Linked DNA regions of Homo sapiens: region 2 is linked to region 1. Evidence: fine-mapped expression QTL. A gene starts in region 1. The other region holds a variant in brackets. All regions are shown on one strand. Distances are from middle to middle.

Region 1 (15,170 bases):
TTGCTTGAGCCCAGGAGGTGGAAGTTGCAGTGAGCCAAGATCGCGCCACTGCACTCCAGCCTGGGCAACAGAGCGAGACTCATCCCAAAAAAAAAAAAAAAAAGGCCGGTTGGTGGCTCATGCCTGTAATCCCAGCACTTGGAGGCTGAGGCGGGCAGATCTTGAGGTCAGGAGTTTGAGACCAACGTGACCAACATGGAGAAACCCCGTCTCTACTAATAATACAAAAATTAGCTGGGTGTGGTGGCACGTGCCTGTAGTCCCAGCTACTCAGGAGGCTGAGGCAGAAGAATCGCTTGAACCCGGGAGGTGGAGGTTGCAGTGAGTCAAGATTGGGCCACTGCACTCCAGCCTGGGTGACAGAGCAAGACTGTCTTAAAAAAAAAAAAAAAGTCAGCCGGGCATGGTGGCGTGTGCTTGTAGTCCCAGCTTTTTGGGAGGCTGAGGCAGGAGAATCGCTTCAACCTGGGATGTAGTGGTTGCAGTGAGCCGAGATCATGCCACTACACTCCAAGCCTGAGTGACAGAGCAAGACTCTGTCTCCAAAAAACAGATTCCACATTTGTTCATTTTGGTGGAGTGGGTGAGAATGTACTTATACAAAAGATAGTTGTATAGTTGCACTTTGTTAGGTGGAAGACTGGAGTTGCCTTGTTATATGGAGGTTCAAAAATGTAGAGGCAGGCCAAGAGCGGTGGCTCACTCCCGTAGTCCCAGTACTGTGGGAGGCCAAGGTGGGCGGATCATGAGGTTAGGAGTTCAAGACCAGCCTGGCCAACATGGTGAAACCCCATCTCTACTAAAAATACAAAAATTAGCTGGGCTTGGTGGTGGGCACCAGCTGCTTGGGAGGCTGAGGCAGGAGAATCAATTGAGCCCAGGAGGCAGAGGTTGCAGTGAGCCAAGATCGCGCCATTGCACTCCAGCCTGGGAGATACGTCAAGACTCAGTCTCAAAAAATAATAATAATAATAATGTAGAGGCAAGTGCATGTGGATACTGAGTAGCCAAAGAGGTGGACTGTGCCCAATATTATTACCTGAGCTCCAAACCAGCCTGTCTATACTCAGCTTTGAGTTACTGAGGCTGGGGCTCTGCAAGACACACTTCTGCTTTACCAGCTAGATCTATGTTTGGCTCTGCTAATAGGGGGCACTAGAGGGAGACCGCAGAGCTGGAAGGGAAGAAGAGATTGGCTCCTTCTATTACTTTCAGTTCCTATGAGTGAACCTAACAGTGCTCCTTCATCCCTGACAGAAGTAGTACTTTTCTGCAGTAGAGCCGATTTTAGTTTGCAGGTATTTCTGATTGCAGAACCAAGTTTATCATGCCTCACCTCAAAGACACCAGCATTGCTGTATGCGGTGGTGTGCACCTATAGAACCAGCCACTCAGGAAGCTGAGGGGGAAGGATAGCTTGAGCCCAGGAGTTCAAAGCTGGTAGTGTGCTAAGGTCATGCCTATAAATAGGCACCGCCCTCTAGGTTGGGCAACATAGCAAGACCCCACCTCTTTAAAAAATAAACAAAAACCATAATCTGGTTGGCACTCTTCCTCTTCCTTAGTTTCTGCTCTAAGCTTCTAATTTGTAATAATTCCAACCTATTTTCTTTGTTCCCTCAGCCAAGGAGTTCATAGCTGCTTCCTGCTGTTACTGCCTCTGCGATACTGTAACCTTTCAGTTATCCTGGGCTCAAGTGATCTTCCCACATCAGCCTCCTGAACAGCTGGGACTACAGATGCACACCACCAGGCCTGGATAATTTTTTTTTTTTTTTGAGATGGAGTCTTGCTCTGTCGCCCAGGCTGGAGTGCAGTGGCACAATCTTGGCTCACTGCAAGCTCCGCCTCCTGGGTTCACGCCATTCTCCTGCCTCAGCCTCCCGAGTAGCTGGGACTACAGGTGCCCACCACCACGCCCAACTATTTTTTTGTATTTTTAGTAGAGACGGGGTTTCACTATGTTAGCCAGGATGGTCTTGATTTCCTGACCTCGTGATCCGCCTGTCTCGGCCTCCCAAAGTGCTGGGATTACAGGTGTGAGCCACTGCACCCAGCCCAGGTCTGGATAATTTTTAAATTTTTTTGTAGGGACATAGTATCCCTATGTTGCCCAGGCTGGTCTTGAACCCCTGGATTCAAGCAATACTCCCACCTTGGCCTTCCAAAGTGGTGGGATTACAGGCGTGAGCCACTGTGCCCAGCCCTTACTTTTTATATAAATTGACAATTATTTATTTATAATTTTATTTTGCTCAAGGAACTCAGTTCAAGTATTTCTTTTCTTTTTTTCTTTTCTTTTTTTTTTTTTTTTTGAGACAAGGTCTCACTCTGTCGCCAAGGCTAGAAGTGCAGTGGTGTGATCATGGCTCACTGCAACGTCCACCCCGCTGGGCTCAAGCCGTCCCTCTGCCTCAGCCTCCTGAGTAACTGGGACCACAGGCACACACCACCATGTTCAGCTAATTTTTTTTTTTTGTATTTTTTTTAATAGAGATAGGATTTCACCATGTTGTCCAGGCTGCAAATAATTCTTTTTTTTTTTTTTTGAGACAGAGTCTCACTCTGCTGCCCAGGCTGGAGTGCAGTGGCGCGATCTCAGCTCACCACAACCTCTGCCTCCAGGGTTCAGGCAATTCTCCTGCCTCAGCCTCCCGAGTAGCTGAGACTAGAGGTGTGTGCCACCATGCCTGGCTAATTTTTGTATTTTTAGTAGAGACAGGGTTTCACTACATTGGCCAGGCTGGTCTCGAACTCCTGACCTTGTGATCCTCCCGCCTTGGCCTCCCAAAAATGTTGGGATTACAAGCGTGAACCACTGTGCCTGGCCAATTCTTTATATTAAATTATTTCTGTTCAAACAACTGGGATGGTTTCTGTCTCCTGACTAGAGTCTGACTGATTCAGACACCAACAGTGGCCAACCATATCCTACTCTGATTCTTTCCAACTCCTTCCCTTATAGTTGCAGGGTGAGTGGGCATAGCATTTACCTTCCACATTATTGAAGATGACAATTTTACCAAATATTTTGCTACAGCATAATAGAGATCTCCAGCCATCCAGCCTGGTTTACTTAATCTAGTATATGGCACTGAATTAAAGATCAGGCAGTAATCCACTGCCTGGCCATTAATTCAGTGCCATATATTTTTGTTTTTATTATATCGACATCCCACTCCTGATACAACTTTCTGTATTAATAAGGATCAGTTAATTGCTGTAGTAAACAACCTCTCAAACTCATTGGCTTATATAACAAAACTGTATTTCTTGCTCACTTCAGTGTTTAATATGTTAGTCATAGTAGAGGAAAGGTCTGCTCTGCACAATTATGCAGGGACCCAAGTTCCTTCCATCTTGTGGCTCCACCCTCTTCTAGGTTCTCAGAATCTCCTCTACTCTGCTAGCAGATAGGAAGGAGGGCAAGGATCAGCACCTGGGAGATTTGTGGGCCATCCTGGGAGTAGTACCTTTCACTTCCACTAGCTAGAATTCATTCGCATGGCCACATCTGTCTGTTAAAGAAGCCGGGAACTATAGGTATTGGTGAGAACAAGAGGTTTATACTACATTAAATGGCTCATTGGTGACATTTACGATAAGTTTTAGGGGAGTGATGTAGACAGGGGCCAACTTGTAAAAAGTTAGGAAATCATAGGGGATGAGGGATTTTGCCATGATGCCCAGGCTGATCTCGAACTCCTGAGCTGAAGCCAGCTGCCTGCCTCAGCTTCCCAAAGTGCTGGGATGGCAGGCATGTGCCACCATGCCCTGCCTGGTAGCAACTCTTTAATATGATCCTAATGATAATGAGAAAGATAAATCTGAACTAAGGTGAGAAGGTAGCCAACCATGGGAAGCTCCATTGGGTTTTTTAGGGTTTTCTTTTCTTTTTTTCTCGAGACGAAGTCTTGCTCTGTCGCCTAGGCTGGAGTGCAATGGCATGATCTCGGGTCACTGCAACCTCCGCCTCCCAGGTTCAAGCAATTCTCCTGCCTCAGCCTCCCGAGTAGCTGGGATTACAGGCGCATGCCACCATGCCCAGCTAATTTTTTGTATTTTTTTAGTAGAGATGAGGTTTCACCATGTTGGCCAGGCTGTTCTCGAACTTCTGACCTTGTGATCCACCCGCCTCGGCTTCCCAAAGTGCTGGGATGTGAGCCACCACGCCTGGCTTTTTTTTTTTTTTTTTTTTTTAGACAGGGTCTTGCTCTGTCACCAGGCTGGAGTGCAGTGGCGTAATCACAGCTCACTGCAGCCTTGACTTCCTGGACTCAGGCAAACCTCCCACCACAGCCTTCCAAGTAGCTGGAACTACAGGTGCATGCCACCATGTCCAGCTAATTTTTAATTATTTTTGTAGAGGTGGCATCTCGCAATGTTGCTGAGGCTGGTCTTGAACTCCTGGGTTCAAGCAATCCTCCCACCTTGGCCTCCCAAAATGCTGACATTATAGATGTGAGCACTGCGCCCAGCCTTGCTTTTTAATTGATGTAGAATTGAGCATGTGTTTGCGGTATTAATGAACAGGAAGAGAGATAGGACATGAGTTTGGAGTTCTATTGGGCTTAAATAAATAAATAAAATGGAGTTCCATCAGCCTTACTTAAAAAAAAAAAAAAAAGAGGCCAGGTGCAGTGGCTCACACCTGTAATCTCAACCCTTTGGGAGGCCGAGGCAGGCGGATCATCTGAGGTCAGGAGTTCGAGACCAACCTGGCCAACATGGTGAAACCCCGTCTCTATTAAAAATACAAAAATTAGCCGGGCATGATGGCACATGCCTGTAATCCCAGCTACTTGGGAGGCTGAGGCAGGAGAATCACTTGAACCCAGGAGGCAGAGGTTGCAGTGAGCCGAGGTCATGCCATTGCACTCCAGCCTGGGTGACAAGAGCGAAACTCCATCTCAAAAAAATAAAAAATAAAATAAAATAAGGATATGAGTGGAGGGTTGGCCATGGACAGAAGGAGGCCCACATCTTCTAAAAAAGAAGAAAGGACAGATGCAAATAAAGAGAAATTATGAGATAGAGAGGAGGTAAACTGAAAATCCAGTAGGATTGCTTTGGTTTCTGTAAAGTGACGAGAAAAAAGAAAAGGTTTCAGGTTGCAAGAGGACCCAGTTAAGGTGGGACAACAGGAATCTGTACTGGAACCAGTATGTCTAGTTTTGTGACTTTGTTCCACAGCCAAGGAGCAAAAAGGGAGGAAGCTCACCATGTGGTTTGCTCAAGATGGGGCTCATCATATTGAGAGCCTTTGGCACCAAAGGCACGGCTGAGCAGCCTTTGGCATATATATCAATTATTGATCCTTAAGGTCACTGTTGTCGGCTTCCTACTCCTCCCCATTGTATATTTTTACTTCCTTTTTTACTTTCTCCTAGTCTCCAGTTCTTTTTTTCCTTGCACTTTTCCTTAGGTTTTACAGTAACCACAGTGTGACAGACATACCCTAAGCTGACCCCCAATGATTCCTGCCTCCTGGTATTTACGCCTTGTGTGATTCCCTTTTCTTGAGTGCAGATGGCTCCTGTGCTTTGCTTTTAACCATAGGAGATGGCAATGATGATGGGATGCCACTCTGTCACATATATAGTAAGTTATATAAAACTCTATCATCATAGTCTGGAGCTAGAGACCCTCATTGTCAGTTTCAAGAAACTAAGTGGCTATGTAGGAGAAACCTGCATGGCAAGGAAATGTGATAATCTCTAGGAACTGCAGGTGGCTTTTGGATCCTGAGAGAGGCCTCCAGCAGACACCCAGCAAAAATCCCAGGCCCTCCTCAGTTATACAGTCACCCAGCAAAAATCCCAGGCCCTCTTCAGTTAAACAGTCGCAAGGAAGTTAATTCTGCCAATAACCCAAATGGGCTTGCAAGTGGATTCTTCCCTGGCTGAGTCTCCAGATGAGAATGCAGCCTGATTGCAGCCTTGTGAGACTAAGCAGAGGACCCAGCTAAGCTGTTCTCTGGCTCCTGACCTGGAACCTGTTAGATAACGTTTGTTTTTTGTTTTTTTTGAGACGGAGTCTTGCTCTGTCACCAGGCCGGGTGCAATGGCACAATCTCGGCTCACTGCAACCTCCACCTCCTGGGTTCAAGCAATTCTCCTGCCTCAGCCTCCCGAGTAGCTGGGACTATAGATGCCGTGCCACCATGCCCAGCTAATTTTTTATTTTTAGTAGAGACGGGGTTTCACCATATTGGCCAGGATGGTCTCTCTCGACCTTGTGATCCACCCACCTCGGCCTCCCAAAGTGCTGGGATTACAGGCGTGAGACACCGCGCCCGGCCGATAATGTTTGTTTTAAGCCTTAAATTTGTGGTAACTTGTTACACAGCAGTAGAAAATGAATACTCCCAGAATTCCTGAAAAAACACTGGGGCCCTCAGGCATGACCCCTCTACATTATGTGCTACCTAGGAAAATCTGGGCCTGGGCCCAGGACACAGAACTTGGTGAACGAGGCCAGAGGGTGTGCCACACACCTCCAGTGGGCACTCTGGACTTCAAGGTAGAAGAGGTCCTGGCTTTCAAAGCAAATCGTGTGCCCCACCTCCCCGCGCCTGCCTGCCTCTGCAAATGCCTGTCAGTTCGACCCTCAGAGATGGGCGAAGCCTGGGGAATTACAGACTGCCAGAAGTAGATCACGAAGTCCACCACCTGAATCTCGGCGTTTGGCACCGTGCCTGGTACACAGTGGACGCCCAACAAACGGCTTGCTTGCAGAACAGAAAGAGCCCTCGAGTGCGCGTCTGCTGGCCCCCTCTTTGTGCAGAAGGGAAAAGGGAGACTGGGAGGGCCGGGGACCTGCGGGGCCCCGCCGCGGGTCAGAGCTGGGCCTCCGGCCAAGCGCCATCCCGGGCCCAGGCGGAGGGGGCGCTGCGGCGGGAGGCCGCGGCGGGCGGTGGCGGCGGGCCGGGGGCGGAGCGATGGCGGGGCCGCCCCAGTGAGTGAGCGAGCGAGCGCCGCGCGCGCCGCCGCTGCCACCTCCGCTGCTCGGCCCGGTCCCGGAGTGGCCCGGCCGGCCCGCGGGGCGCGGAGCCGAGGCCCGCGGCTGGCTGCATGAAGGACTGCGAGTACCAGCAGATCAGCCCCGGGGCCGCCCCGCTGCCCGCCTCCCCGGGGGCGCGCCGTCCCGGCCCCGCCGCGTCCCCGACTCCGGGCCCCGGGCCCGCGCCGCCCGCCGCCCCCGCCCCGCCGCGCTGGAGCAGCAGCGGCAGCGGCAGCGGCAGCGGGAGCGGGAGCCTCGGCCGCCGCCCACGGCGCAAGTGGGAGGTGTTCCCGGGTCGCAATCGCTTCTACTGCGGCGGCCGCCTCATGCTGGCCGGCCACGGCGGCGTCTTCGCGCTCACGCTGCTGCTCATCCTCACCACCACCGGCCTCTTCTTCGTCTTTGAGTGAGTTCCGCTGCCTCGGCGCCCCCTCCCAGCCCCCTGCCGCGCACCCCACCTTCCCAATCCCTGCTGGGCACTCCGTGCCTTCCCCTTCGCCTCCCTGGTCCTCATCCTCCCCGCCCCTTTGGGATCCTCCTCGGGCCTCTTGTCTGCCCCCCTGGCCCCTGCGCACCCCCATCCCCGCCAGATGCCCCATCCTCCTTGGTCCATTTGGGTACCCCATCCGCGCTGGTGCCCTCCACCCTCCCAGCCCCTCCATTCTCCCTGACCCCACCCTGGCACCTGTCTGCCTGCCACTGCCAGGAACACCAGCCTCCATGCCCCTCCACGGCCCCCATCCTCGCTGCCCTCTCAGAACCTGCCCCAGGGCTTCTTGAACAGGCCCCTCCTGCTCACCCATCCCTGGACCATCTCTTGCCAACCCCCCAAGTTCTTTCTGACCCTTGTATCCCTTCCTGACCACTTCTAGATCTTGTGTGTCCTTTGGCTGTGCACACCCACCATAAACATCCTAGTCATCCTCGCTGCCCTCTCCGGGTCCCTCCAGGGTCCCCTCCTTTTCTCTAGTCTCAGACACCAACCCCGCTTTTGCTTCCCCTCAGCCACGCACACCCTAGGCCCCAAGGCATCTTTTCTCAAAATCTTTGGGCCTCTCGGGCCCCCTTTCCTTCTCCAGAACCTTCCTTAGGTTCTCCAGAGCTTCCTGTCCTTCCCTCAGATCCCGCCCGCCTCCACCCAGCCGGCTCCCAGGCCCCTGGCCCCCCTGCTGACCACCTGGCTTTCTTTCCCTGCTCAACATTCTGGAACGTCCCTCTGGCCTGTTCCACATCAGCAACAGCTGCGGTGCCTTGTTGTTTTTCAGGAAAGACTTCGGAGTGCTTTCGTGTGACAGGTCATATTTGCCCCCCTAGGTTTTTGTCCTCTTCATATCCCCCGGTGACCCAGGATTGGCCCACACATAATCTCCATTTTATGGATGGAGGGTCATATATTTGTATTAGAAGTTTTCCACCCACCTCTGAGCCACCTGCACTGTGATTCCTTGCACACACACTCACACGCCCACCCACCCACCCTTGCTTCATAAGCCCTGCTGTCCCCTCCCAACTCCCCATCCTTTGTGGTTGTTCCTCTTAATTATACAGTGTAGTTAAGAACTCTAACAGACCTGGTTCAAATCCCAGCTCCACCACCCACTAATTGCGTGACCTCAGGGCAGTCACTTCACCCCCTCAGTGCCCCAGTTTCCTCATCAGTAAAATGGGATTTATAATAGTACCCACCCCGTAAGGTTGTCCTGAGGGTGGCATGAGGTCACACATGCAAGCTTTTAGCCCAGTAACAAGCACACTATGTTGGCTGCTATTAGTACTTGTGTTGTCTTTATCAAAAAACACTTCCCAAGGGCATGTGGCCATGGTAAGGCTATCATAGAGACACCCGCCCCCAGGTACCCTTTCTAGCTGCCAGATCATGTATCTGCAACTTTGGGTTTCCCCTTGAAGCAAGGTGAAGACTTCCTATAAATTAGCTTCTCCCTTTACCCTTTAACCACACACTCTGCCCTTTTTTTTGAGTAGGGTGGATAAAAAGTTCAGGGATGATTTACAAGCAGAAGCTCTGGGGGGCCCAGAGCTCAGCTCTGGGCTGAGTTTCAGATCCACTTCCCTGGGCTGGCCACATGAGTGTTTTGGAAATGCCTTTTCTAGTATCCCCTGGGCTGCCCTCTCAGTCCCCACACCCAGGGCTGCAGCCGAGGCAGGAGGAAGCAGTACTTGCCGTGGTTGACCCACATGACCCTGCAGTGTGATATCTGGCCTAACTTCTGAACTAGAAGCAGGACCTTCTCTGGGTTGACCGGGTATCTTCACTGGTGACTGTTTTGTCCCCAGCGAGGGAGAAAGCAAGGACTTCTGGGTTTGGGGAGAGCTCGTGAACCATGTTGCAGTTTGTCCCCGCTTGTCCTCATTGGGGGCTGGTAGATTGGCAGAAGAGTTTGGGTTTGGGCCGAGAGCTCACCTGGGTCTGGACTGGATGCTCCCCATTGCTCTGGGAAAAGGTAAGGTGCTCTCTAAGCCTTTCCTGCTATGAATGGCTTTGCTTCTTTGTTTGGCTTGGTGGATTGTTGCACAGGCCTCCAGCAGGGCTCCCAACTTCTGCCTTACTTCTCGCCCCCACACAACAGCCAGAGTGCCCTTTTGATTCTAACTCAGGCCTGAATCCTCCCTGGCCTCTGTCCCCTGCTGTCTTCTGTCCCCGTCTTCCCTCCAGGCATGTCATCCTCCGTGCACACTCCTACCTCTGGGCCAGTGCTTGGAATCCCCTTCCTGCAGGTGGCCTCATGGCTCACTCTCTCACATTAGGCCTCCCCTGTCCATCCGCACAGCATAGCAAACCACTCCCCTCCTGCACCTCTCTTCTCCCCTCATTTATCGCTCTCTGAAGCATTTGCCACCACCTGACATATTATGGTATACTTGTTAGTTTCTGGTCTTTGCCCATGAGAGCAGGACATTCTCCTCTGTTGCACCCTTAGTGCCTAGAACTCGCACCTGGTATGCAGTAGGTGCTCAATACTTATTGAATGAATGAATTGACAGTGTATTTGAATTAATTGACAGTGTATTTGCTGGGAGGCTGGAAACCCTAGTTCTGTCATTGGCTGGCTAGATGACCTTGAACCTAGCTGTGGGCCTGGGAGAGCTGTTAGCCTCTGGCAAATCAGGAGGCTAGGACTTGGTGGTTCCTGCAGGCTCTACAAGTCTTAGATTTCAAGTCTTCTCTGTCCCCCCACACAAGTCTGATTGCATATGAACTGGATTCATTGCCATGTGGGTGACACTGAGCGCCCACTGGTTCTGTTTGAGGGTCAGACCCAGAAACCATTGAGATGTATGGAGCAGAGTGTGACCCACTGGGAGCCCTTGGCCTTGGCAGTCTGCTCCTCAGGGGAAGGGCTTCTCTGAAGGCCAGAGCATCTGATGACGGAGACTTCAGAAGCAGCATGCAGGTGCCCACAGGTGTGTGCCTACTGTGCCACTCCTGGAAGCTTGGTTGATCTCAGGCCTCCCAGGGCCCCGTCATCTCCTTACCTGATCAGGTGCTACTCTGGCTATGGGGTGATGGTTAAAAGTATGAACCTCAAAGTCAGACCTGGCTTGGGTCCCACTTTAGCACTCCTGAGCCATGTGACCTTGGGCAGATTACTTAAACTCTCTGAGCTCTAGTTTCTTCATCTGTAAAGTGGGGAGCATAACTTCACAGGGTCCCAGTGAGGATTTGATGAGAAAGTACACAGGAACTGCTTAGCCTGGTACCTGGCCCATCCAGGTACAGTAGTACAGTAACTATCTGTAGATAGTACAGTAACTATCTACATAGTACAGTAACTATCTGTACATAGCACAGTAACTATCTGTACTTTGGATGTTGCTAACAGTAGTTTATTAATTAGGGCAGTGTCTGGCACATAGTAAGCCTTCAAAAGATGGTAGCTATTTTTCTGTCCCCTGGCAGCAGTTATTTACCGGGTACGTCCTTGGTGCCAGGTGCTGTGCAGTGTGCTGGAAATATAAAGCTGAACAAGAGAACATAGTCTATACCCACAGAGGAGCTTATGTTTTTTTATGTTTGTTTGTTGTTGTTGTTGTTGTTGTTGTTGTTGAGATAGAGTTTTGCTCTTGTTGCCTAGGCTGGAGTGCAATGGCACGATCTCGGCTCACTGCAACCTCTGCCTCCCGGGTTCAAGTGATTCTCCTGTCTCAGCCTCCTGAGTAGCTGGGATTACAGGCACATGCTACCACACCCTGCTAATTTTTCTGTTTTTATTAGAGATGGGGTTTCATCTTATTGGTCAGGCTGGTCTCGAACTCCTGACCTCAGGTATCCGCCCACCTCAGCCTCCCAAAGTGCTGGGATTGCAGGCGTGAGCCACTGCGCCTGGCCAAGCTTATGTTTTAGTGAGAGAAAAATAGCCATCACATAGACAAGTAGCTGAAATCTATACTAAATGTTATACAGGAAAGAAAGAGCATTGAAGTTCACTGTGTACAGAGTTGTCAAGGTAGGTCCTTCTGAGGAGGGAAGAGGAATCTGAGAAAAGGAACAGCAAGTGCAAAGGCCCTGAGGTAGGAGAGAGCCAGGCTTGTTATAGGAACTGTCATGGGCTATTGTGATGGGAGGAGCAGGAGCAAGACGAGAGTTTTGTAGAATGAGGCTGAAGTCCTCAGTAGGGCCCAGATCATGCCTGGCCTAGAAGGCCATGGTAGGGAGTTTGGATTGTATTCAAACTATATGGAAAGCAATTGGGAGGTTTTAAGCAGGGAAATGACATGATCTGATTGACATTTCCAAAAGTGGCTCTGGCTTCTGGGTGGACAGTGAGGTGACAACAGAGAGGATTGGCCATAGAGAGAGAGCCCTGATAGCTTCACTATCATGAAGCCATTCTCCCACCAGTGTCCAGAACTTCTAGAATGTTCTAGCCCTAAGATGGAGGAGGGAGCTTGAAGAGGGCTGTGGTAGGCAGCCTCCCTGGGGGACAGAGGCATGACCATTCAGCAGGCACAGGCTATTCTCTGAGGCAGCCAGGGTCAGGGGGTCTGAAAGCACTGCCTTGGGGATACCTGCCTACCTTGGGTCACAGTGACAGTGGCTGGACCATGCAGTTCCCCCAGCCCTCTACTCATTCTTCAGGTTGGAGCTTAGGATTGTCTCCTTCAGGTTGCCTTTCCTGACTGTGCTACTGCGTTCCCCTCCCCCACTAGAGCACACATCACCCTGTGTGGCAATTCCCTGTTTACATGTCTTGTTTTCCCCACTAGACCATAAGCCACAAGGGGGAGGGACTCTTGTCTTATCCGTCGTCATTATTCCTGCTGCTTATTGAAGGTGTTGCCTGCCACAGAGAAGACCTCAGTAAATATTTGTGGACTGAGTGAGTGAATGAATGAGTGAATGAACACTGCAGGATGGTTTGTCTCAGGTGACAGTCCACTAGTGTCTGCCTGAAGCTCTGTGTGTAGAGGGATTCTCTGGATGCAGAGGTTAGGAGTGCTGGGATCTATTGGACACATCTGCCATGTGCTCTGGAGGAAAGTATATCACAAGGATCAATTAGTGATGTCTGTTCCCGGTACTTATTGGGGAGTGGCTGCACTCATCAAGGAGCTGTGCCTCTGCCTCAGAGCGAGGCTGTATTCAAGATTTTGGTGGTGGTTGTTGGAATGACAGCGCCTGCCACGTGCTGTAGCCCTGTGCCGCAGGGAGCCCTTGGGGTGTCTGCTGATCTCTCTCCATCTCTCGTTCTAGCTGTCCCTACCTGGCTCGCAAGCTGACCCTTGCCATCCCCATCATCGCTGCCATCCTCTTCTTCTTCGTCATGAGCTGCCTGCTGCAGACAAGCTTCACCGACCCTGGGATCCTGCCCCGGGCCACTGTCTGTGAAGCAGCCGCCCTGGAGAAACAGATCGGTGAGGTTTCTACTCCCAGCTGAAGCTGGGTCTCCATAGCTCCACATTCCCTGACTTGGGAGGAGGCCTGGTTTTCTCTTCCAAAACTATACTAGGAACTGGGGATGCAGTCGTGAGCAAGGCAGGCTGGAGCTGACACTGGCACAGAGGGAGACAGATGATCAACAAGTGAGCAAATAAGTAAGCAAGAAATGCTGGCCAGCCAGCAAAGGCCCCGATGGCAGCCAGCGTGGAGCTGAGTAGTTCCTGGGGGCTAGGCACTGTTTTAAGCTCTTTATATGCATGATCTTATTTAATCCCCCAGTAATCCTATGAGGTAGGTACTGTTGTCATTCTCCTTTTACTGATTAATTAAATCAAGGCAAAAGAGGGTCCAAGATCACAAAGTAAGTAGAAGAGCTGAGATGAGACCTCAGTCTAGAGCACCTGCTCTTAAACATTCATATACACTTATTCATTCACTCATCAAACATTTATTGACCCCCTACTATGTGCCAGGCACTTTTCTAGATGTGATACAGCAGTGAACAAAACTGACAATAGTCCCTGTCCTCATGGAGCTTGACAGTTGAGGAGGAGGAAAGAGACAATAAATAACAAATAATTAAATATCTAGGATATCAGACAGAGAAGAAAGGAGGGAAGGAGGATGAAGGCTACAGGGAGGGTGTGTGATTTTACATAGGGTGGCCAGGGAACATCTTGTGAAGGAGGTGACATCTGAGCAAAGAAGCACCGGCCTGAACAGATGAGGGCTTGACGGTGGGGTTATCTAGGGAAGAGCCCAGTAGGTGTTGGGGAGTGGGCTAGTTTAGGTCAGGTGGTCAGGGGAGACCTCTAGGAGGAGGCGGCACTGGAGATGAGTGTGGTAGAAATACGGGGATCTGGGAAAAGTAAGGCCAAAGCCCAGAGTGGCAAACAGCCTGGGCGTGTGTGAGGAACGGCAGTGGCTGGAAAGACCCTGTGCTCCCAGGCAGCCCAGGTGGCCCTTGATTCCTTTCAGACTGCTGTGTGGGTTCCGGGGTGGCGGGGTACTGGGCCAGGTCCCTAATCTCAGCTTGCTGCACCCCAGCTCTTCCTGCTGAGAAGTGACGTGGCTACTTGCACACCTCGGGGGTTTCCGGTCCGTGGTTAGCTCCTTCCCCTAACAGCATGGTGTTCACACAGGCTTTTAAACACCCAGCTGGCCCTGAAGACATCTAGTGGCCTGTAAATGTCAGAGCCCTGCTGCATCCATCGCTAGAAATCATTTCACTAATACTCTGTGCAGCAGGGAGGGAGGGAGGGCGAGCAGCTGGAGAGGATGTTCTCTGGGCTCTGTCTGCTCTTTGTCTCATTCCTCTGCCCAGCCCCATCCTCAGCCACGCCTGCGAGGGCCACCTCCTCTCACCTACATCCAGCGTCCTACCCCTTCAAACTCTGGGTCCCTGGCCACTCCTTCAGGATCCCACGGTCTGACCTGGGCTGGCCCACCTGGCAGCTGGGGAGGCCCAGCTGTGCCCCGTTCTTCCTCCCCTTCTGGTCAGGGCTAATCATGAGGCAGGATTATTGTCCAGCTCAGCCGGACCCAGAGGTCTGGCTGCCTGGAATCCTCGGCCTCCTGTGAGCTGCGTGGATCACAGTGACAGCAGTAATCCCCTTCTTGGAAAGAGCTTGGCCGTGTGCTGAGTGCTTTCCATCTATTATCCCCACAAATCTTCACAACAGCCCAGTGAGGGCGACCCTGTTAACCAATTGTACTGATGGAGAAACGGAGGCAGGTGATCACAGGGCCAGGATAAAGAAGCAGAGACAGAGTGTGTGCCTTTCACTCCCAAACCCCTTGCTTTCTCTTCTGAGATGGCAGCAGGGACACATCTCCTTCATCCTCTTCTCCACTTGTTTCCTGTGCTCTGGGAAGCCTTCTTGACCCCAGTTGGGCCAGGCCTTCCATTGCACATTCCCAGAGCACCTTCTCCTTCCTTCTCTGAACCTGTGCTGCAACGGTGGTCATTACAAAATCATCCTTTCTGCTGGCCTGTGAGGGCATGGAATTCCAGCATCTTGTTCACCTTGTCGCCATGTAGAAGGCTCAGTGACGTTGGCTAAATGAGTAAATGAATGACTGAAGAATAGGTGAGCTTCTGTGAAGGCCCTCCTTGCTCTGTCAGGGTGACAGGTGAGGAAACAGTCAGGACATCTCCCAGTTGGGCATCATGGGTTTGTTCATTTGTGTGTTAATTCTATATGCTGACCCCTGACAGCAGAGTGAAGGCAGGTGGGGGCCAACAATGAATCTGATAGGAGCTTACTCT
Region 2 (15,170 bases), 26 kb after region 1:
TATGTGTGTATATATATACATGTATATATGTCTATATATACACATATATCTATATACATACATATATACACGTATATACATATATATGTGTATATAGAGAGAGAGATATATAGATATATATCTCTATAGAGATATATGTGTGTGTGTGTGTGTGTATATATATATATATATATATTTTTTTTTTTTTTTTTTTTTTTTTTTTTTTTTTGAGGCAGAGTCTCGCTCTGTCTCCCAGGCTGGAGTGCAGTGGCCCAATCTCGGCTCACTGCAAGCTCTGCCTCCCGGGTTGACGCCATTCTCCTGCCTCAGCCTCCCGAGTAGCTGGGACTACAGGCGCCCGCCACCATGCCCGGCTGATTTTTTTGTATTTTTAGTAGAGACGGGGTTTCACTGTGTTAATCAGGATGGTCTCCTGACCTCATGATCCGCCTGCCTCGGCCTCCCAAAGTGCTGGGATTACAGGCGTGAGCCACCATGCCCAGCCTTAAATTTCTTATTATGAAAATTTCAAACACACAGAAAAAGCAGGAAGGATTATAGTACAACTAATTCCTGTACATTCACCATCTAGATTGAATAGTAGTTGATAGTGCATCTTATTTGCATATATATGTTTGTTCTTCTCAAACTATTTCATAGTAAATTATAGACATCATAGATACTTTACCTATAAATATTTCAACATATGTCTTAAAAATCTAAGGATAATCTCCTACATAATCACAATTCCATTATCATACCTAAGAAAATTCATTGTTCCTAATTTTTTTTTTTTTCGAGACAGAGTCTCCCACCGTCGCCCAGGCTGGAGTGCAGTGGCATGATCTCGGCTCACTGCAAGCTCCGCCTCCCGGGTTCAAGCGATTCTCCTGCCTCAGCCTCCCGAGTAGCTGGGACTACAGGCACACGCCACCACAACCGGTTAATTTTTTGTATTTTTAGTAGAGACGGGGTTTCACCGTGTTGGTCAGGATGGTCTCGATCTCCTGACCTCATGATCCGCCCGCCTCGGCCCCCCAAAGTGCTGGGGTTACAGATGTGAGCCACCACACCTGGCCAATTGTTCCCTAATTTTTGTTTGTTTTTAGAGACAGGGTCTTGCTCTGTCACCCTGGCTAGAGTGCAATGGAGTGATCCTGGCTCATGCTCACTGCAGCCTGGAACTCCTGGGCTCAAATGATCCTCCCACCTCAGCCTCCTTAGTAGCTGGGACTATAGTCACACGCCGTCATACCCGGCTAATTTTTGTCATTTTTTATAGAGATAGGGTCTTCCTATTTGCCCAGGCTCATCTTGAACTCCTGGGCTCAAGCAGTCCTCCCATCTTGGCCTCCCAAGGTGCTGGGACTACAGGCATGAGCCACTGCATTCGGCCTGTTTCGTAGTTTTTAATCTGTAGTCAGATTTCCACAGTTGCCCTCCAAATGTCTTTTGTTGCTGTGTTTTGTTTTGTTTTTCAAAATAAGATCCATGATGTATTGCATTTGTTTATGTCTCTTAAATCGCTTTTAATTTAGAATCATCTCCTCTCTGCCTCTCTTTCTCTCTCTCTCTTTTTTTTTTAAGACAGGTTCTGGCTTTGTTGCCCAGGCTGGAGTGCAGTGGCGTGATCTTGACTCACTGCAGCCTTCACCCCCTGGGCTCAAGTGATCCTCACTCCTCAGCCTCCCAAAGTGCTGGGATTACAGGTGTGAGCTACTGCACCCGACCTCCTCTCTCTTTTTATAAATGACATTGACTTTTGTTAGAGATCAGGCCAGCAGTCTTGTAAATGTCTCATATTCTAGATCTGACTTTTTCCTCATTGTGTTACTCACTTTGTTCCTCCATCTCCTGAACCTCCTGTAAACTGGGACATAGGTCTAGGCTTGATGAGATGCAAATAAACCTCACTGGCTGGGCGCGGTGCATCACTCCTATAATCCTGGCTGTTTGGGAAGCCAAGGTGGGCAGATCACCTGAGGTCAGGAGTTCAGACCAGCCTGGCCAACGTGGTGAAACTCTGTCTCTACTAAAAATACAAAAATTAGCTGGGCGTGGTGGCACACTCCTGTAATCCCAGCTACTCGGGAGGCTGAGGCATGAGAATCGCTTGAACCTGCGAGGTGGAGGTTGCAGTGAGCTGAGATTCACGCCACTGTACTCCAGCCTGGGCGACAGAGTGAGACTCTGCCTCAGGAAAAAAAAAAAAACCCTCACTAAGCTTTCTGGGAGTCTCCTTCTCTGACAGCCCTTCTTAGAGTGGGTAAGGCCGGCAGGTGTATGAACAGAGGCAGTCTCAGTACATGGTGGCAGTTCCTAATATTTGTCCCTGCCTTAGGCCAGACATTTTACTCCAATGTTTGTTCCTGGGAACCTGTTACCCTGAGGCTTCTCCTGGACTGGCCAGGCAGCAGTAGCTTTCCCCTGCTGGGGATCCGGGCCCTGGGCTGCCTTGGGCATTCCCCATCTTTCTCTCCTCCTTCCCTCAGACAACACAGGCAGTTCTACATACCGGCCACCCCCTCGGACCCGGGAGGTGCTGATCAACGGGCAGATGGTGAAGCTGAAGTACTGCTTCACCTGCAAGATGTTCCGGCCACCCCGAACCTCACACTGCAGTGTCTGCGACAACTGTGTGGGTGAGTAGGAGGCAGCAGGGAGGGATGCAGGGATTCCTGAGAGAGACTGAGTCGTGGGGATGGGGGGCATCAAGCATGGGGATGGCGTGGGCAGGGTCTGAAATACCCAGGGCTGGGCAGGGGGTCTGGTTCACCCAGATTTGCCCTGACTCAGGAGGGCCCAGGGGAGGGGCCCTCAGCATAACCAGGAGTGTTTTGGCTTCAGCTCAGGATTGGTGGATTCCTTCCCCCAGCTCTGAGGTGTGGGGCAGACAGACAGGCTTTGAACCCTTCTCCCAGGCTTCAGCCCGGTCCTCAAGAGGTCCAAGCTCCCAGGAAACAGACTGGAACAATAACATTCCAGATGTGTTTGGGCCAGAAAGAATGAGTTACTGTCCAGTGGCCCAGGGCCAGCTGTACTGAAAAACTTTGATCTGATTCCCAGAGTTGAGAGGGAAAAGCATCTAGCAACAGAGGCGTTTAAGCTGATGAGGTGCAGAGGATGTCACCACTGGAAATGGCTCCTGACCCTACAGCTGCCTGCAGTGGTTGTTTTGTCCCCTCTCCCTGCTCTCCAGAGGCTGTGTAGTTCTGATGGGCACCCTGAGAGGGTGTTGTAAGGGAAATAATGCATGAGAGGGCCCAGGTGAGCTGAGCCACAGTGACTGTGCATAGTTCCCAGGGCAGTGAGCTCATCATGCCAGCTCAGTACTCCCTAAGCAAGAGAACAGCAGGGAACACCCCCCCGTGACGGCATGCAGTGAAGGGGGTGACTCAGTGGGCACCATTCATCCCCAAGGAGCTGCCCCGCCCACGCCGTGCAAAGGGCACTGGCCTTGGCATGAGGCCTGCAATGGGCTTGTGACCCACATTCCCACAAGGACTTTCTTTACCAGTCTGGGTGTGCCTCCACCCCCGGGGACAGTGTGCAGGTGAGCTCAGCCCTTTGACCTGGCCTGTGATGCTGGCTGGCTGTGAACCCCATTGCAGCTCAGCCCCTCCCTGGGCCGCTAGTCCTAGAGCAGGAGACGGGTTGTTGACTGTTAGCATGTGGTTGGGATGGTAGACCAGGTGACAAGTATTTTTGTGAGTCTTTGTGCCGGCACTGCTCTGGATCCTGGGGAGTCAGCATGGTGTAAGACCAGCACAGCCCCCCTCGCCCATGGAGCTTACAGTCAAGTAGGGCTGATTGGCCAATCCAGTTATTATAAATAAGCATAAAAACACACATGGGCAGAGTGTGACAAAAGAGAAGTGATGGGGCAGATAACAGGGGCCCCCTCCCCTAGTCTGGGATTGGAAGAGACTTTCTTAAGGAGGTGGCTTTGCAGCTGAGACGCGAAGGAGAAGTTCCAGTTAACCAGGTAAAGAGACGAGAGAATGTATCAGGCAGTGGGAACTGGTACACAAAGGACCAGAGGCAGGTGTGTCCAAGGCCTGGGAGCCAGCTGGTGCTGCGAGAGTGAACGGGGTAGGAAAGCCCCAGCCATGGGTGAGGCCGCCAAATGCCTGTGCTGGCTGCAGGCCAGCCCACACTAACCCATCGCCCCTTGCCCTTGTCCAGAACGATTTGACCATCACTGCCCCTGGGTGGGCAACTGTGTGGGGAGACGGAACTATCGCTTCTTCTACGCGTTTATTCTCTCCCTCTCATTCCTGACGGCCTTCATCTTCGCCTGTGTGGTCACCCACCTGACGTTGCGTGAGTTGTGGGTGAGGGCAGTGGGGAGTGGAAGGGGTCAGCCAGCAAGCTCAAGGGTCAGCAAGCTTCAGCAGTCACTGTCCCTCTGAGCTTGTCCTCTCCTGTTTCTTTCTCCCCAGGCGCTCAGGGAAGCAACTTCCTCTCCACTCTGAAGGAGACACCAGCAAGATATCCTTTGTCAGCTAGAGGACACTCCAGTGGGAACTGAGGTCCCTTCACTGGGTGGGTGCCCTGCCTCATCCTCTAATCAGAAGGGAACAGCGTACAGCTCACATGTGTCCTCCAGAATCCAACATGCCAGCTCTTCTGTTCACACCCAGGCAAGAGCTGATCCTAAATGGGGCATTGTGGGGCCGGGGGTTCCTCGTCTTCAGGGGCCTGGAAAAGAGTATGTCCCTTAAGATGCCAAGCTCCCTGGACCGTGTCGTGCCCAAGGCTCTTTGTGATTGGAACCCTCAGTTTTCTCTGCCGTCCATCACCCTGACCTTGTCTGGCTCTTGAGTGGGGTCCTGACCCTTCCGAGGGGCCCAGGAGGTGATCCTGCTAAGAAGTGGGGACTGGGCCACAGGAAGGTTCCAAAACTTCTCAGCTCTCTGGGGAAACAGCTCCATGGAAGGATAGGTGAGACAGGCCAGGTGTGGCTGGGAGGCTCCCCACCCTCCACCCATTGAAGTCCTTAACTGCCCTCACCGTGCTGGAGTTGGTGATCTGCTTCTTCTCCATCTGGTCCATTCTGGGCCTCTCAGGGTTTCACACGTACCTCGTCGCCTCCAACCTGACTACTAATGAAGACGTGAGTAAACCTGGAGCCACCCCTCATTCTAGGGCAGCGCCCTCAGGAGGAGGCAGGGCTGAGGGAGCCTGGGGCAGCCAAGCACAGTCCTGACTCACGGACTGCTGGGATAATGCCTTTTAAGCAGCCAGATGCCTCCCAGTCATCTCAGCTTGGCCCTGGTGGGTCCGATGCAGGCTTCTGACACCTCCACATGCTTCATTCTCTCAGTGCAGGCTCCCAAGGTCCCAGGTTGCTTTTCTCCACAGCCCTGCAGGAGGCAGTACTCACACCACAGCACGCATGATGTTTGGCTGGCACATGACCGCTTACAGAATTCTTTCAGTTCCCGTCATTTCTTTGGGTCCTTTTGCCAAGCCTGAGGCAGAAAGGACAGGGATGTTTTTTCCCCATTCGATGACTGAGAGACATGTCCCATGTCTGAGAGGTCACACAGCTGGGAGGGGACAGAGCCAAGGTTGGTGCCCAGTCACAGGTATGCGCTCCCTCTTCCACACTGCCCCTGTCAGCAGCAAAGCCGTGACTATTCTCAAGGTGGCACTGGCCTGTCCTGGCTGCCCCTCTCAATATGCACGCCTGGGGGAGACAGGGCACAGGCCAGTGGGCTCCATTGACCTTCCCTGCCTGCCACCCTGCAGACTGCCATCAACAAGCATGTTTGATGTGCCCAGTCCTAGGCCAGACCTGACTTCTCCTCCCCATCCTCCAAACACTAAAAAGTAAATGAGAGCATCTGTTTCAGGGCCCACCATCTGATACTTACCAGCAACCCATCCTCCAACAGAAAATACATTCCCAGACCTCATCCTCTCATTCAGGGAAACAAAACTTCACACATGACAGGGCGTTGTGTGCCTGGTGATCAGTGAGAACAGAAATGCCATCAGCCAGTATCTCCCGCAGTAGCTTCTTGGGTGCCAGTTCTGCAGCACATTACCAGAGGTTAAAGAGAAAGGAGTGTGTGGCCAAATAAGTGTAGAAAACTCTAGGTTAAAGTCAAGGTATTCTTTATTGCTAAACTCTCCAGTGCCTTCCATAGCTGACTTCACAGAGCTAGAGAATCTGGCAAGAATTAATCTAATGCCCTAGCAATGTCATCTGAGAATTAGTATTATTTTCCCTGTTTTCCAAATGAGGACTCAGGCTCAGCGAAGTGGTGATCTGTCCAGGTAACGTAGCCAGTGAGTAGCAGGGCCGGGGCTCACAGGCAGGTCAGCCCTCACCCTGTGCCCCTGCGCTACCCTCCTTCAGAAGTGGCTGGCCGGAGAAGGGAGGAGTCATCCGAAACGTTTCCTCTGGATGCTTCTCTTGGGCTCTGCTCTGTCATCTCCTCTTTGGGGCCTCCTGATCTCTGCCAGGGGTCCCCCACATTCTCATTGAATGGCCCACATGAAAGACATGTCGCCTTCTGTAACCAGAATTGGTTTCGGAATTGTCCAGTTGTCCCCAGCCTCTAGACCTGCCTCCTAGAAAAGTGAAGCAAAAGGAGGTACTTGACCTAGGCCTCCTTCCTGCTTGCAGATCAAAGGCTCGTGGTCCAGCAAGAGGGGCGGTGAGGCCTCTGTCAACCCCTACAGCCATAAAAGTATTATCACCAACTGCTGTGCTGTGCTCTGTGGCCCCCTACCTCCCAGGTAAGTGAGCGGGGTGCGGAAGAGGGGTAACAGGGCCATGCCTGGCCAGTGATCAAAGTGTTCCTGGATATCAGCCGACCTCCCCCTACACCCTAGATGCCCTCCGTCCACTACCCCCTGGAGGGCATTTGTCATGTGACGGAATTCCATGGAGAATTGTTATTTAATCACGTGCTCATTGTAGAAAAAAAAAATTAAGTACAAAACGTAAAACAGAGGAGCATTGGATATGACATGTAATTCTACTCCCCGGGGGTAGCCACCATGACTGTTTCAGCCATGTTTGAATGACACTGCCCTTCCGGTTGCCCACTGCCTGGACTGGGTGGCGACTCCATCCTCTCCTGGCAGTAGGAACCCTGGGGACTCAGCCCTGCTGGGTCACTCCCTGTTCATCCTGACACCAGGGGGCACCAGAGTTCCAGAACGGGGATTACATTGCTGTGGGTACTGCTAAGACAAGTCATTCCCACACAGTCATGTCACCTACCCCACCCAGTATCCCTGTCACCCAGCCTGCCTAGAGGGGAAGGGAACATAGGAATTTCATAGTCATCAAATACCTATTCATCCTTGCTTTCCTCCCTCACCTGCAGCCTGGCTTCTTGGCAGCCAGACAGGTGGGCCAGTTGGAATTAATAGTGAATAAATTCTGTGGCCAAAAGCCAGGTGGCCAGAGGGCAGAGAGAGGCCTGCCAGAGGTAAGAGTCTTGGGCCCCCAGATGGGCAGC[A/C]GCTCTCCTTTCCTCAGCCTTTCTCAGCCTGGGCCTTTCCTTGGCTGAGATAGACTCTGCCGTCCAACCCCTGGCCTAGAGCCTCAGTGTTGGGCAGAGCCCTCATGTGTCTCCCTTGTGTTTTGGAAGCCTAATTGACCGGAGGGGATTTGTGCAGTCCGACACCGTGTTGCCCTCACCCATCAGAAGCGATGAGCCAGCCTGCAGAGCCAAGCCTGATGCCAGCATGGTAGGAGGCCACCCCTGACCACGGCTCAGTACTTGCCACCTGCTGGCCTGTCTGACCCTCCGCACTCACCTGCCGGGACCCTCCCTATTCCATCCAAGGGAAGCAGAACTGCCAAAGACTCAAGTCTTTTCATATTTATTTCCCATCCTGCGTGGCTTTCCCTGAACTGTTCCGTGGCTGTGCCCTCTGCTCCCCAAACCCAGGTTCCCACAGCCTTGGGCCCTAGGTACCCCAGCTGATCAGTGCCAGGAGAGACCAGAGCCTCTGGAGGCTACCCAGGGGACCACACCAAGTCCTTGCCTGTGCCGGGCGAGCCCTGTGTGAGTGAGGCTGTGAACTGAGCGTGAGGCCTCCCAGGTGGGGGAACTGCTTGGGCCTTGCTGAGCCAGGGTCCTCAGGGTGAAGCAGGACTGAGGAGTGGCCAGCTCTGGATAGCTGGCTGTGGAGAGGAAGCCTCCATGGGCTGCTTTGGTCTGTGGGCTCCTTCATTCCCTTGGTGATAATTTCCCTTTATTCTGTGGGATTTTTGGTGGGGTTTTCCCCCCTTTTTTATGGAGTTGGCCAATAGGATTGAGTTGGGGCTCCAGTAGAGAAGGCAGGGTTGGTGGTGGGTGGGGGCAGCCTGTATCAGACAAAGGTAAATCAGCCAGCCAGGCACCCACAGCCTCAGCTCCTGTGCAGTTCCTGGGCAGCACAGTGGAAGTGGGAGCCTGGTCCTTCCCCTGCCCATGGAGAGCTCTTTAAGGGATCCCAGCCTGCCCCTCCACTTCTCTCCCAAGCCAGGTCCCGGCATGGGTGGGTTATGCTCATGCTGGCAATACTTGAAACGGGTTTATTAATGCTGGGTATTTTGCACAATTTTATAGACCTCTTTTCTACATAGTCTTTTTTAAATGGAAGGAGAAAATGTCAGCCACATTACTGTCTGTGTAGTGCCAGGTGAAGGGTTATCAGAAGGCTGGTTGGTTTTAATAAGTTTATTCCAAGAGACCTTCTGGCTGGAATGAGTGAGAGTGTGTGTGCATGTGTGTGTGTGTTCATGTGTGCCCTGTATGAATGTGGCTGGCTCCCATATCCCCTGGGCTGCCCCCTGCCCCATCCCCTTTGAGTGTCAGAAGCACTCTGAGCCAAGGGGACAGGGGGCACGTGCACTGGTCACGAGAAAACCCTGGGCTCCCACTGGGGCTCAGCCCAGCCTCCTATCTTTCCTTCTTCTATGGACTTCAGACAGCCAGTGTCTGGGGACTCTGCCACTCTACCCCCAGCCCTACCCACCAGCCCCCAGGTGAGGCTTCCAGCTGGGACCTGCCCAGACAGGCTGAGCCTGGGCGTGGTGGGTGGGGTGATGGCTCTGGGGAGCGGCTGCCATCCTACAAGCCACACCCCCTCCTCTGAGCTCTGAATATGGGACCCAGTGCCAGGAGCTGGAAGACAAGGTGTTTCTGCCAAACGGGGACCTCCATCCAGAGAAAAGGAAGAAGGTGCAGGGTGGGCCAAGAGGCAAGTGAAGGTTGGCCTGAGTCTGGGCCGGAAACTCAGAGGATGTTTCTCCTCTGCTGGGAGCTGTAGTTTCTTATCAAAATAGATATTGTTCCACCATCCCCCTCCTTGGCCCTTCAAGTGGGCTGAAGCCCTTGGAAAGTGACATAGGAAGTCCCCAGATCTTGCCCTTCTCACTCCAGAGGCTAGTGGTCACAGACAGCTGGGAATGGCAGCCACAGAGGGTCCCCTCTGGGAGAAACAGCTTCACCCCAGCCTCAGGGCCCTGGGCCATCACTGCAGTGGCCCTGGGAGGTGAGGAAGAAGCTGGCTAGAGGAGGGGGCTCCCACCTACCTTTTATTTAAGCCAGTATTCTTTGTTCCTGCTTGTAATAAAACTTCAGTTTATAAGAGTTGCTTTGCTTTGGTTTGGTTTTTGTTTGCTTTTCCTTTGCTGAGGCCCCAACTGGGAGCCCTCTGTTCTTTCAGACAAATTTGGTTCTTTCCTGGGGAGACTGTGAGAAGGCAGGCAGCCCAGTGATCTGGCTACATTTTCCCTCACCTGGCTGGAGCTCTGTCCGCTGGAGGAAGAGCAGAGAGGGCTGCGGCTGAGCCCCCATGGGCACGTGAAAAGAGGCCATCCTGTCCCCTCTTTGTCCCCTCCACCTTCCCCTGCCTCAGGGGCTTGGAGACCCCCAAATTCTTCTTCCCTACTGCCTTTCCACTCCGATCCCCAATGAGTGCCCAGCTAAGAAAATGTTTGAGACAGTAGATTCCAGTTTGAGAGCCGGAGCTTCCCTGGCTACCACCTCCAACCTGGGCACCAGGGCCCAGCCAGACAACTCATAACACTGGCCCACCTCTCTGGTATCTCCCTCAGGAGGACACCTGTCAGGATTTTGCCATCTCCTGCACAGCCTGAGGGGAGCTAACAGGCCTCTTTGCAGAGGGTTAGCTGGTAAGACCGTTTCTTCCCTGTCGGCCAGCACTGCCCGCTCCCCTCACACACCATCTCATCCTCATCGCATGCCTCGCCAACCCCATGGAGCCCGTCCATCTGTCTGGTGTGTGGTGCGGTGTGTGTGCTGGTGGTGGTAGGGTCTCCAGGGACTCCCCGCTAAGCAGAAGGATCGGGATATAGGGCAAGGCTAAAAGCCCAGCCCCATTGTGGACTGAGGAAGTAGCTTCTCGCAGAGCAGCTCTCCAGCTGGAAGAGGAGGTGGAGGGTGAGGCTGGGGAGAGGATGGCGAACCTGCCCTGAGGTGCTTGGGTCTGTGCTGGTGGGGTCCTGGTATGCAGGGGCCACCGGTCACTAACACTCTTATGTCCTGGCTTTCTGTCCCCGCTGAGCTTTCTCTCACCCGCCCGTTTTCTCTCCTGCTTCATTGCCTGCTGCCTAAGCCTTGGCCCTTCTCTCGGGCAGAGGCAGGTGCTGTGGCAGCACCTCTCCCCACCACCGGGGCCCCTGCAGGCCGCCTCCCTCCTCCCAGGCCTGCTAACCCTCTCTCTTCTCCTTCTTTGCTGTCCTGCCGGGGATCTCCAGTGTGTGCGGGGGCTTAAGGACCTCCTGAGGACCGCTGCTCTCTGCCTCTCCAGGAATGGCCTGGGGGGAGCCAGGCACCCGGCACCTCCACCTGCCTAACCTGTGGCCCATCTGCCACCATCTGTGCCTACAGGGTCTGCCCCCCAGCCTGCCCGGCCTGTGTGCTCTCTAGGACCCCCATAGGGGGCAGGGGCTGGCCTCTTTGCCCCATTCCCGCTCCATGCCGGCCAGAGTGTAGAAAGCCATAACGCAGCCATCAGCACAATAATGTGACTCTACGCTGATATGCTCCCTCTCTCCTCCACTGACTTCCCCTTCCCGGATTTGTGAGGTGTCAAGACTAGGAATCTGGCCTTAGAGCCTGCCCCTCCACCCCCTCAGATCAGGCATAGCCATAGTCAAGCCCAGCAGGTTTCCTCAGGAGCTGTCTGGGGTGTTGATGGTGGATGACGCTGCTGAACAAGTTTGGTGACTGTTCTAAGCACAACTGGCTTGATACTGTTCCCACGGCCTGTCCACCTCCCACCCCCAACCCTCCACCAGAGTAGGTAGGATGTAGGGAGGGTGCGTGCCTCCTTTGCTCTAGGCACTGAGGGACCAAGCTAGCCGTGCACAGCCCCATACACTTCAGGGGACTAAAGGAAAGAGCTGAGCCAAGGAAAATCAGCTGAGCCCAGGGCTGGGGGCTGCTTGTCTGCTATCCTGTACCTTTTTTTTTTTTAACCAAAATAAAGATTCCCCTCTTCTTGCCATACCATTGGCTGTCTGGTGGCGCCTTTACTTTGGGGCCCAGGGATGGGACCTGCAGTGGGCGTGTGGAACATATGGCTCCCCCTCGCTCCCAGCTTTCTTCCAGCTGGCCAGTGCTGCTCTGGAGATTTACAAGCACAACGAAGCCAGGAGGGACACAGGAAAAGTGGCTGACATCCTTTTCACTCTGCCCCTCCAGAACTCTTGGTCTCAATTCCAGACACCACCCAGCCTTAGCTGACCTCTGGATTCTGATAGGTCCCAGTGCAGGCTGAGACAGAGGGTTTAACTCCAGTTTGGGACTGCCATACCCATGAACTGAGCCCAGCCCAGGGTAACGATCTCATGGAAACTTCTCTCTCCCCAGTTGCTGCACTACATCAAGATACACACATGTGCATACACTGTACTATGGGCTAAAAAAATAGCTACCGCTACCGTTCAGCAAGGGCTTGCCGAGTCCCGGGCCCATTTTCTCATCTTAACCTGTGAGGAGGATGATGTCAGCCTTTTTACAGATGAGGGAACTGAGACTCAAGGAAGAAACAGGAGCTGCCCAAGGTCACCCAGCTGGCAAAGCAGCAAATCCCAGATCGGAACCTGATCTCTGCCCCGAGCTCTGAGCCATCTGCACTACCCAAGGAATGAATACAGCGGTGGGAGGATGAGATCTTGGAGAAACCCTAAAATTAGAGAATGTCATAGCCAGTAGAGGGCTTAGAGTTGATCTGGGCCAGCCTCCTTGTTTTACTGATGGAGAAATTGAAGCCCAGAGGCAGGAAGGGACCTGCCCAAGGCCTTATAACAGAGCTGGGATGCAGTCCCACACTCTGACCTCATTCCATTCTCTCTCCATAAATTCTGCACTGTCTCTAGACTGGACTGGTTTAGATGTGGGATACTCTAAACAGCAGTGCCTTCAAGAGAAAAAGAATCAGAACTACGAATCACTTAAAAGTAATGTAAGCTACTCTGGGCACACTGCCTATGGGGTCGCCCTGCTCCACAAGGAGCCACAAAAATAATTAAAATAATTTAATATCCCTTCCCAAAGGTAACCAGTAAAGTAAGCTCTTGGCTAGGTAACTGGACTCTTGTTCACAACTAGCCAGTGGGAAAAGGTGCTAGAGCTTCCTCTGGCCACCTGTTTAATTTGATCATTCCAAGACAGAAACATTTCTTAGGAAGTTCTTTCTAGAATCTACCTGGTGTCCCTCCCACTGCTATCAGAGCCCTGTCCTCTGTCCTCAGTGGAGGTAGAGAGCAAATGGTTGCTGCTTTCTTCATCACAACCCTTCAAAGCCTATTATTACCAGCTAAGAAGGATTGGTTGACTATGGGGCCAGAGCCCCTGAGCCTGCTGGTAGAATGGATGCTGTACAGGAGGGTGGGGAGGTAGCAGGCAGAATGAGGAAAGCCCCTTTGAGCTGCAACCCCAGCTCCTGTCCTGCTGACTCAGACAGCTGACTGTGGAGCTCCATGCCCTGCCAGGGCCTGCTGCCTCCTGCCCGTCTGAGCTCCTGAACTTGGGAAATGGAGGCCCAGAGGCAAAGGGAGGTACCTGAGACAGGAACTGAGTCAGGATCAACAGGCCAGAGCGGGCAGGAGGTATCAGGCAGCCTGGCTCCCAGATGCACCCCTGAGCTCCAGCAGGGGAGGAGTAGGAATGAAGGGGCTTCCTTGCCCTTGCTCATGGCTATGCGGAGGGCGTGAACCACCACCAGGTCCTCTGGCTTAAGTGGCGGGAAGCAAATGGTCCCTCCCTGGACTCAGGCTCCAAAGTTCCTGGGCCTGCCTTCCAGGTTCCCAGTGTCCTGGGATCTCCAGCTTTCCCCAGGACTTGGGGAAGCCCCGGCTGGATGACTAGTACAAATGAAGGCCCCTGAGGTTCCAGGACCTGCTGAGGTCACAGGAATATCCTAGATCAAGCTTGTCCAACCCACGGCCCACAGGCTGCATGTGGCCCAGAATGGCTTTGAATGCAGCCCAACACAAATTAGTAAACTTTCTTAAAACATTATGAGATTTTTTTGCAAATTTTTTTTTTTTTTTAGCTCATCAGTTATTGGTAGTGTTGGTATATTTTATGTGTGGCCCAAGACAATTCTTCCAATGTGGCCCAGGGAAGCCAAAAGATTGGACACGCCTGTCCTAGATGGAGAGGAAGGAGGCAGTGCTGAGCACATCTGGCCATTCATCCATCTGGAGAGAGAAGGCTATGGGCAAACTGCTTCCTCTCCCCTGTAGACACCCAGCTGGGAAGGTCTGGCCTTTGGCTAAGTCCTGGCTTGGGGTCCTTCCTCATTTCACAGAACCTAACTCTATGTTAGTGCTTTGTGAGTATATGTTGATCATAATAAAGTTGACGGGATTTTTTCACATGATAATAATAGTTGTCATCTGGCCGGGCATGGTGGCTTATGCCTATAATTTCAGCACTTTGGAAGGCTGAGGCAGGTGGATCACTTGAGGTCAGCTGTTCGAGACCAGCCTGGCCAACATGGTGAAACCACATCTCTACTTAAAAAAAAAAAAAATACAAAAATTAGCTGGGTGTGGTGGTGCACCCTTGTAATCCCAGCTACTCGGGAGGCTGAGGCAGGAGAATCACTTGAACCCAGGAGGTGGAGGTTGCAGTGAGCTGAGATTGTGCCACTACACTCCAGCCTGGGTGACAAGAGCGAAACTCCGTCTCAAAAAAAAGAAAATAATAATAATAATAGTTGCCATCCATTCTACTGTGCTTTCCATTAACTCGTGTAATCCTCACAAGTCCCATTTTATAGTTACAGGAACTGAGGCTCACAGAGCTTAAATCACTTGGCCAAGGCCACAAACAGCTATAAGAATTACATTTAGGCAGTCTGATTCCAAAGATACTAGTCTATTCTGTATCTCATAGACAAACAATACATATTCACTTTTTTGTTGTTGTTTTGTTTTGAGACGGAGTCTTGCTCTGTCACCCAGGCTGGAGTGCAGTGGCGCCATCTCGGCTCACTGCAAGCTCCGCCTCCCGGGTTCAAGCGATTCTCCTGCCTCAGCCTCCCGAGTAGCTGGGACTACAGGCATGTGCCACCATGCCCGGCTAATTTTTTGTATTTTTAGTAGAGACAGGGTTTTCCTGGGTTAGCCAGAATGGTCTCGATCTCCTGACCTTGTGATCCACCCACCTCAGCCTCCCAAAGTGCTGAGATGACAGGCGTGAGCCACCGCGTCCGACCTATATTCACTATTTATAAATTGGAGAGAATAAGAAAATCAAAAGGGCCAGGTGTAGTGACTCACACCTGTAATCCCAGCACTTTGGGAAGCCAAGGCAGGAGGATTGCTTGAACCCAGAAGTTCGAGACCAGCCTGGGCAACATGGTGAGACCCTGTCTCTACAAAAAAATACAAAAATTAGCTGGGCGTTGTGGTGAGCACCTTATTCTTAGGAAGCTGAGGCAGGAGGATCACCTGAGGCCAAGGAGGTTGAGACTGCAGTGAGCTGTGATCATACCACTGTACTTCAGCCTGGACATCAGAGTAAGACCCTATCTCTAAAAAGGAAATTGAGAAGAAAGAAAATCAAAGGGAAGCAAAATCACTCACTCTCACTACCTCAAGATACCCTCTAGAAGTTGGTATTTTAGTGTGGTTCCTATTGTTTTCTGTGTCAGTTCTCTGATTTGAGCAAAATCTTTGGGACGTCAAACTTAAAATCCCC

Which allele goes with the higher level. Alleles are on the strand shown, and positions count from the first base shown. SD is a standard deviation of normalised expression in the study named.
For the expression in tibial nerve of the gene that starts at base 6,957 in region 1, C is the high allele of the variant in region 2 and A is the other (moderate effect, 0.53 SD a copy in GTEx).

The links. PIP is the estimated chance that this variant, and not a neighbour inherited with it, causes the effect. A credible set is the group of variants that fine-mapping cannot tell apart.
Region 2: its variant is the best candidate, but not a certain one, in a credible set for the expression of ZDHHC18 in tibial nerve (GTEx, PIP 0.53).

Annotation. Positions count from the first base shown.
Region 1 is chr1:26,819,732-26,834,901 of GRCh38, forward strand. It overlaps ZDHHC18 (zDHHC palmitoyltransferase 18), which reads left to right and starts at 6,957. Exons shown (of 8, transcript NM_032283.3): 1 at 6,957-7,408; 2 at 12,716-12,876. The coding sequence starts at 7,074. RefSeq lists silencers at 6,739-6,891, 6,855-7,004, 7,015-7,224 and an enhancer at 13,998-14,097.
Region 2 is chr1:26,846,137-26,861,306 of GRCh38, forward strand. It overlaps ZDHHC18 (zDHHC palmitoyltransferase 18), which reads left to right. Exons shown (of 8, transcript NM_032283.3): 3 at 2,472-2,621; 4 at 4,165-4,302; 5 at 4,422-4,470; 6 at 4,993-5,095; 7 at 6,617-6,729; 8 at 7,590-11,468. The coding sequence ends at 7,707. Among named protein-coding and RNA genes, the nearest start is that of SFN, 9.4 kb to the right of the region's middle. RefSeq lists an enhancer at 7,096-7,597 and silencers at 7,212-7,271, 8,844-9,016. The variant A/C (reference allele first, on the strand shown) is at 7,461.